Linked DNA regions of Homo sapiens. The protein of the gene in region 1 purifies or fractionates together with the protein of each later gene. This does not show direct contact. Each region holds a gene or a part of one and is shown on either strand. Other genes may lie near its edges. The genes, in order: GLYATL1 and ELAC2.

Region 1 (4,352 bases):
CACCAACACGTAAAGGTAGGCTAAACATTGATAATATAATAGCTTTAAATGTGTATAAATGTATGCTTACAACCTCAAAAATGCCATGCAATATTATTGTTCTACTTACAAGATCAGTGCAGGAATTATAAAGCATTAATTCAGAGTGGACTCTTGGCAGTGTGTAATTTATGGTGCATGTGTTCTCCATTCTGTCTGTGTTTCTGTACCATTGGGTGATAACACTAGAATCTCAAATTTGGGAACTTTTTTGAAAGTGGGGCCATGCCTAAATGGTATCCTAGTTGTCTCTTCCACCATGACCCCATGATGGACCTGCAAAGTCCCAAAGATGGAAGAACATTCAGGGGTAGCCAGCTGGAGAGACCTAGAATCAGAGATCTCTCACACAGCCTGAAAAGCCCAAAGCAGATGAGCATAACCTCAGCACCTGTGAAACCAGAATTCATTGCTTCCATTCAGAGATCCCATGTTCATGTCAGAATCCAAGCTGCCACGAGTGTTTCATGAAGTCACTTATGACTAATACTGAGTACAATGGGACTGATATCAGAACTAAGCTAGGCCCGGAGAGCCCTGAGGTTGTGACACATAAGGCTAAACCTTTGAGTTTTGATCCACAGAGTAGATACATCAGAGAAGTGGACTTGGAGAATCCCCTGCTGGAGTCCTAGAGAGTAACCACTCTGTCAGATAGCATGTGTTTCTGAGAGGAAAGCACAGGGGTCTAGTTCCAGCCGTATCCCTCTGCACCCCATATGCACGTGCTGAGTTCTAGAGAGACTCCAGAGCTGGTCTGAAAGGCTGATGCAAAGGAGTCTGCTCTGGAACTGAAGTGTTATAAGAAACTGGCAAGCTCAGCAGCCCTACAGATAGGTGAGGAGCCCAGAGATGGGAGAGGAAGCTATTCTCCTGGCCAAGGTCCTGATTCAGTTTGCCAGAATCATAGGCAGACTTGAGGCCGACTGGAGCTAGCACTGGCAGTGGAATTGAAACCTCCCCTGTAGTCCCATAGAGAATTTTTTTTGTATAAACATAGAAATTGACCCTTCTGATCTTAATGCTTGAAACTTTTATTTGTTTTATATGAATTTCATCCTTAGTAAAGGACCCCTACGTCCCTCAAAAAGTATCAAAGAATTGAAACTCACCAGATGATCCCATCCAGACAATGGGACACCAGACCCCTCATAAATTATGATTGCTTCCTTAGGTCGCCTGAGTTCCTGTTTTTCTACACATTGTTACATTTCTTCACTGCTATGAAAACTCATAATTTTAGTTGATCAGCAAGACGGATTTGAGACCGAGCTTGCATCTCCTCTGCTACAGCATCCAACTCAGCCTTCTTCCTTGGCAATTGGTTATATTGATTGGCTTTCTGTGTGGTGAGCTGCAGGACCTAGACCACACCCCTGGTGTTTCAGTAACAGCTTTTGGTTTCCCGACCAGGAACACTTTGGCTCAGTTGCCATGGGCCAGGAGTCTCACAGAACTACTAAGCAGCTGCTTACCCAATTTTGGCTGGAGAGATAAGTACCCTCTGGGGCCACCACAGCTGGCCCCAACCATGGTCCTGATTGCCTTGGAAGAACTGCCTTTGGAATTTCACATCGGCATCCAGATAGGTGACTGTCCTTTGTGGGCCCAGACAGAAAGATCTGCTCCTCTCAGTTTGGGAAATTTTTAAAGGAATTTCCACTTGCGGGTTGAATAAGCCCAACTGACGAAGAGAGGAAAATACCCTGACTGTTTCAGTATGGACATTCTTGGGGGCTTGTTTGTCATTGTGTGTGTGTCCAGGCAAGTGAGTGTCTTTTGTGGGTACTAGATAGTGGGATCAGCTCCTCTCCATTTGAGAAATTCTGAAGGAATTTTGATTTGCAGGTTGATTGAGCCCAACCAATGGAGAGAGGAATCACCCCAACTGTTTCAGTTTGTAGACTTTTGGGGCTTGTTTGATGCTGCAACAGTTGGATTGTTTTAGTGATTGTTTGCAAGTGTCTGATATAGTCATCAGAAATCAGAATTTAATAAACTGACACTCTTTTGTAACACTGTTTGACCCCAGTATAGTTTGGAATCTGGTATTTGCCCTTGAATGGGAAAGTGGGTTGGAGTTCCATGTATCCAGGCTTTTGTGCTGCTGCTGTTGGGCCAAGTTAGTATGTGATATTCTCCTGTGGTGCTGTTTGACCCCAGTGTTCTTTGGAGTCTGGAGAACTTTGGACTTTAAAAATTAAACTGCCACGGAAACTGTTTTACTGAAAATTTTGGTTCACAGCCTTCACTGGATTACCTATCAAGGCTAACAAAGTTCAGCCATGTGAACATGTTTGCAGACTGATGAGTTTCTATTTCAATAGCTAGAGTTCCAAGGTAAAAGCTATTGGATCTTTGGGTGTATGTATGTCTAGATGTGTCTTTGGGTGTATGTATGTCTAGATGTGTTAATGTGTAGGCATATGTATTACGTTAAATGTTGTGACTACCCAATTGGATTATAAATAAAAGAGTGCTCATAGATTAAGTAAACAAGTCCAAAGTATTTTTCATGTTCATGCTACTTAAGTAAATCTTTAGCAAGCTAGCATTAAAATTTTGTAAAATAAAACTAGAAATGTCATCATAGTTGTCAGCATACATTTTTGTCTGGGTTTTGTATTTGTTTCTGCTAGATATTTTGAGGTATGAGAGTTTGGCACAGAAGTTTATAAAGTTGTCACCAGGAGTTGGAGATAAGCCTGGGAAACAGAGACCCCCTCCCCCATCTCTATAAAATAAAAATTAAACAATTAGCCAAGCACAGTGATTCATGCTTGTAGTTCCAGCTACTCAGGAGACTGAGATTGGAGGATTGCTTGAGCCTGAATGATCAAGGCTTCAGTGAGTCTTGATTCAGCCACTGCACTCCAACCTAGGTGAAAGAGCGAGACCCTGTCAAAAAGACAAATAGAGGCAGAGAATGACAATGGGGCACAGAAGCATTGCAGGGAGACTAGGGGAGGAGTAGTAATTTTTTTTATTATTATTACACTTTAAGTTTTAGGGTACATGTGCACAATGTGCAGGTTAGTTACATATGTATACATGTGCCATGCTGGTGTGCTGCACCCATTAACTCGTCATTTAGCATTAGGTATATCTCCTAATGCTATCCCTCCCCCCTCCCCCCACCCCACAACAGTCCCCAGAGTGTGATGTTCCCCTTCCTGTGTCCACGTGTTCTCATTGTTCAATTCCCATCTATGAGTGAGAACATGCGGTGTTTGGTTTTTTGTCCTTGTGATAGTTTACTGAGAATGATGATTTCTAGTTTCATCCATGTCCCTACAAAGGACATGAACTCGTCATTTTTTATGGCTGCATAGTATTCCATGGTGTATATATGTGCCACATTTTCTTAATCCAGTCTATCATTTCTGGACATTTGGGTTGGTTCCAAGTCTTTGCTATTGTGAATAGTGCCGCAATAAACATACGTGTGCATGTGTCTTTATAGCAGCATGATTTATAGCCATCCCATTACTGGGTATATACCCAAAGGGGAGGAGTAGTAATTTTTAATAGGATGGCCAAAGGAGGCCTTATTGAGCAGGTGGCTTTTAGGTGAAGACTTAAAGAAGGTAATAGAGTTTTTATAGGTCTAATAAGAAAACAGAATGCAGGCAGAAGAAAAAGAACAGCCAAGTGCCTGAAGCAGAGAGGCCAAAGAGAGTGAGGTCTAGGACCTGACTGGACAGATGTCAGGGAGGTGACTGGAGTCTAACTTAGAGAACTGTTATAAACAATTTGTACCTCTTTCTCTAAATGAGATTGGGAGTTGCTGCAGGAGTTGCACAAAGACATGACAAAATCTGGCTTTTGTTTTAAAAGGAGCATCCTCATTTGTTATTGACGGAAGACTAAAGGCATTCTCCATCCAGAAAAGACTGCTAAGAACTGTGAAGCATATAAAAGTTTACCCTACTTGGGGCAATGTTTCATGAATGCTGACAGATAACACAAGCTTTCTGGGTCAAAGACAGAGTTTTATGACTCATTCAACAGGGAGAATGATTTTTGTGTTTGTGTCAGTCATCCTTGCTCCACAAGTCCTACAGAGGAAATACAGAAAGGCAGATTAATGTTGCAAGTGCAACAGATGTGTGTTGAAGCCAAGGAACCCTGAATTTAGGTCACCTGGATGTTTTATAATGAACTGCAAGCAAACCTGTCTGAACTTTGCTCCAGAGGGGGACATTATCTTTCTTATACTGATCAGTAAGCAGACCTACCCTCTGCTTCAGAAGAAAGCAATATCTCTAGCTTCCAAGCTGTCCTCTTTAGAAACATCCTTGAAAAGATAGTCA
Region 2 (3,814 bases), on another chromosome or scaffold:
CAGAAGAAATTCTAGAACTTTTTTGAATTCTAACTAATGCCCCAGATTATCATTTGGATTATTTTGAACTGAATTAATTTTCTTCCATTACCTGCATTGAAACAAATGAGGTGGGTCAGAGTGTGTGAGACTGTCGTGGTCAAGAGTCCGTGTTATGGGATGGACTCACAGCTGGGGAATGTCTTTTGGGCTAACTGCCACTCTGTTGTTGTCCTCTATCGAAGTTAACCAGTTTTGCGGTTCAGCTTTCATTCCAGATGGAATCATCTTTGACCCACCTATCTGAGTTTGAATCTTTTCCCCCACTCTTAATGGTTTACCTGTATTTTTCCTGTTCCTAGTTTGTATCTATCTGTATTTTTTCACTTGTTTTTTTCTACTTACCACAACAAATCCTTTTGGGCTGCTGTACCCCTTCCGAGTCAGAGCGTTAGGAGTTGTTTCATGGTCTGCTTTATTCTCTGTGGGTGAATTTGGATGCGCTGGTAGCCCCGGCTTTGTATTTTAATCCAGTTTTGGGCAGCAAAACCTCTTCAATGAATCAGGTGTCATTTGAGAGCCATGTGTGGATGTGTGATGATGCTGGGATAGATAAAAATAGCTACTGTGTATATTTCTTTTTAAAGGGAACTGGAGGGAAACACATCAGCATGTTAGTAAGTGGTCTGTTGTCCAGGTGGTGAAATTTCAGATGATTTTCATTTCTCGTGCCTGTGTCTCAGGTCCTCTGGAAGGCAGACACCAGGGTGGCATTGGAGGTGCAGGAGGTTTATTCGAGGAAATTTGACTGTGAGAGAGGAAGGAGAGAGGGAGCAGGAGGAGGCAGGGAGAGCCTGGGTCTGGCTTTGCAGGTTGGACCCGTATGAGTGGAGAGGGTAGGAAGGAAGTGCAGTGCTGAGAAAGGATCAGCCAGGCCTACTGGAAAGCCCAGAGCAGAGCTTGCCAGATACAGGAATCCCACGTCCATTGGAAATGGCCCAGCACCGGGGTCTGCCGTGAGCAGCCTGCTGTGAGAGCATGGCCTGGGCGTGGAGGCTGTCAGCTCACTGCAGTGCTGCAGAGGGCCGCACGATACCCCTCCCTGGCTGCGTGGTCCCTGTCTTGGTGTGTCCTGAGTCTGCATCACTTTGTAAAGCCCCACTCTTCTGCCCAGGTACCAAGGAAAGGCAGATGCCCCCGTGGCCTTGGTGGTTCACATGGCCCCAGCATCTGTGCTTGTGGACAGCAGGTACCAGCAGTGGATGGAGAGGTATGGAGCCCAGCCCAGCGGCACTTGGGGTAACTCTTCTGGGCAGTGGTGGATTCCCCTTTCCTCCCCTCGTGCTCTTTCCAGCGCTACCTACCCTTCTGCACCTGCCTAAACTTTCTGTGGGATTCCTGCCTTCCCAGAATTCTAGGCTTCCCAGATCTGTGCTACACTCGTGAAGAAAATGCACCGCTAGGTGGCGCAGTGTCCACACGATTCCATTTATTTTACACCCTCCACACTCTTCAGGGTGTCTGAACAAATACTGCCGTTTGGTTGAGGATTCCATAAGTGAATTCCAAAGAAGAGATTGCAGCTATAAAATGATAGCTTCCATTTACTGAATGCCCACTTTGTGGGAGGCAGTGTGTGAAATACCCTTCATTTCACTTCATTTCCTCTAGGGTCGTCGCCAGCAGCCCTGGGAGGTAGATGTTTAGTCACTGGAAGGCATCTTTTTCCTCGGGGCATCGCTGGCCAGGGCCAGGTGGAGGAGTATGAGTTGAGCTCGGGTGCGGGGTGACCTTGGGCTGCTTTTTGGCCCCTGCCCGTATCTCCCCACATGGCCCGTTTACCTGCCCCTCACTCCATGGCCTGCTCTCCTGCTGTCTCTTTCATTCCTCAGGGTTTGGGTCCCCTATTTGTATGCCCTGGACATCTTCTTTTTCTTGTTTTTCCTCTCACTCTTCCCAGCACACCTGAAAGGCAGCTGAGCTAGGGAACACCGGGCTTTGAGACAGCAGGAGTGGGACCATGTTTGGCCATGTAGTAACACTGCTTGGGGCAAGTCACTGAACTGTTTGAACACCTCATCCTCATTACCACTCCTGAGCTCAGCACCACTCCTCAGGGGGAGCTGCCTCCTAACAGACGCTGCAAATGCCGGGTCTGTTTCTTCACAGGTTTGGGCCTGACACCCAGCACTTGGTCCTGAATGAGAACTGTGCCTCAGTTCACAACCTTCGCAGCCACAAGATTCAAACCCAGCTCAACCTCATCCACCCGGACATCTTCCCCCTGCTCACCAGTTTCCGCTGTAAGGTAGTGTCTCAGACCGGCCCCTTGTCGGCCCAGCTCTCGTCCCCTCTCTTTCTCTCCATGAATGTGTTTTGTCTCTTTCAGAAGGAGGGCCCCACCCTCAGTGTGCCCATGGTTCAGGGTGAATGCCTCCTCAAGTACCAGCTCCGTCCCAGGAGGGAGTGGCAGAGGTCTGTGCCATCTTGAACTAATGGAATCGTCTCAGTCGAGTTGGGAAACATTTCTGTAAATAGCCACATAGTAAATGTTCCAGGAGGCTCTCCAGACCATATGGTCTCTGTTGTAACTATTCAACTCCGCTTTGAGCACAAAAGAAACACGGACAATAAGCTAATGAATGGGCTTGGCTGTGTGCCAGCGTGAATTTATTTAGAAAAGCAGCCTACTCCAGGCTGGGTTGAGGTGGGCGGATTGGGGCCAGTAGTTCTCCTTTTCCAAAATTGCCTTGCATGGGAATAGCAGTGATAGAGCTCGTGTGTTTCACAGTATAGAAAATAGGAAATGTGTGATGAACAAAGTCACCCATAATCCTGTTGCCCAGAGATAATGATTGATAACATTTTGTGTTTCTTGATTTGTGTATGTGGGTTTATATTGTCAGTCTTTTCCTGTATCACTAAACAGTCTTAAGTAACAAGATTTTTATTGGTATTCCAAATAGGGATGTTTACTCATTTGGGATGTTTCCAATTTTTTGTTGTTTTTAATGAATGAAACAATAAATGTCTTATATATAAATCTTTGATGGGAACTCTGTTCCCTTCAAGTCATTCCTAAATGTGGGATTACTGGCCCAGAGTGTGAGACTTGTTAAGGTACTTGATAAATGTAAGATGCCATCTTGAAAGCCTCTTCCAGTACAATCCAACCAGGAAAGTGAACAGCCTTACTGCCCCACATCTTTATTTTAATTAATTAATTTATTTATTTTATTTATTTATTTATTTTTTTGAGACGGAGTTTCACTCTTGTTGCCCAGGCTGGAGTGCAATGGCGTGATCTCAGCTCACTGCAACCTCCGCCTCCCGGGTTCAAGCATTTCTCCTGCCCCAGCCTCCCGAATAGCTGGAATTACAGGCGCCTGCTACCACGCCCGGCTAATTTTTTGTAATTTTAGCAGAGACGGGTTTCACCATGTTGGCAGGCTGGTCTCGAACTCCTGACCTCAGGTGATCCACCCACCTCAGCCTCCCAAAGTGTTGGGATTACAGGCGTGAGCCGTGCCCGGCCTGTTTTAATTTTTAAGGATCTGAACCTTGATTTTAAGTTTCCTGCCCACTCCACAGTATTTGTATTAGAATAGAGCATGTGCTGGATTATGACTGGATGCTGTGTGCTGTTGAGGTTGGGTAGTTGGGGCCCTTTAAGAGACTATACTAGCAAGACTCGGGCCCACAGGCAACATCACGGGGTTGAAGAACCTGGTGTCCCTTTGTTGGCATCTGCGCAGGCTCTTAACACACAGCAGCGATACACAGCCCTAGCCGACATTCAGATTTACCTTGTGCTTGTGAAAAATATTGCACAGGG

The links.
Region 2: the proteins of GLYATL1 (region 1) and ELAC2 purify together in Homo sapiens (affinity purification with mass spectrometry; one large-scale study listed by BioGRID and IntAct). This does not show direct contact.

Annotation. Positions count from the first base shown.
Region 1 is NC_000011.10:58,938,023-58,942,374, forward strand, and holds the start of GLYATL1 (glycine N-acyltransferase-like protein 1), read left to right. Parts: upstream 1-1,465; 5' UTR 1,466-1,628; intron 1,629-2,136; exon of another isoform or gene 2,137-2,379; intron 2,380-4,352. UniProt on the Homo sapiens protein: Acyltransferase which transfers an acyl group to the N-terminus of glutamine. Can use phenylacetyl-CoA as an acyl donor.
Region 2 is NC_000017.11:13,000,914-13,004,727, reverse strand, and holds part of ELAC2 (zinc phosphodiesterase ELAC protein 2), read left to right. Parts: intron 1-1,153; coding exon 1,154-1,249; intron 1,250-2,148; coding exon 2,149-2,287; intron 2,288-2,368; coding exon 2,369-2,454; intron 2,455-3,814. UniProt on the Homo sapiens protein: Zinc phosphodiesterase, which displays mitochondrial tRNA 3'-processing endonuclease activity. Involved in tRNA maturation, by removing a 3'-trailer from precursor tRNA.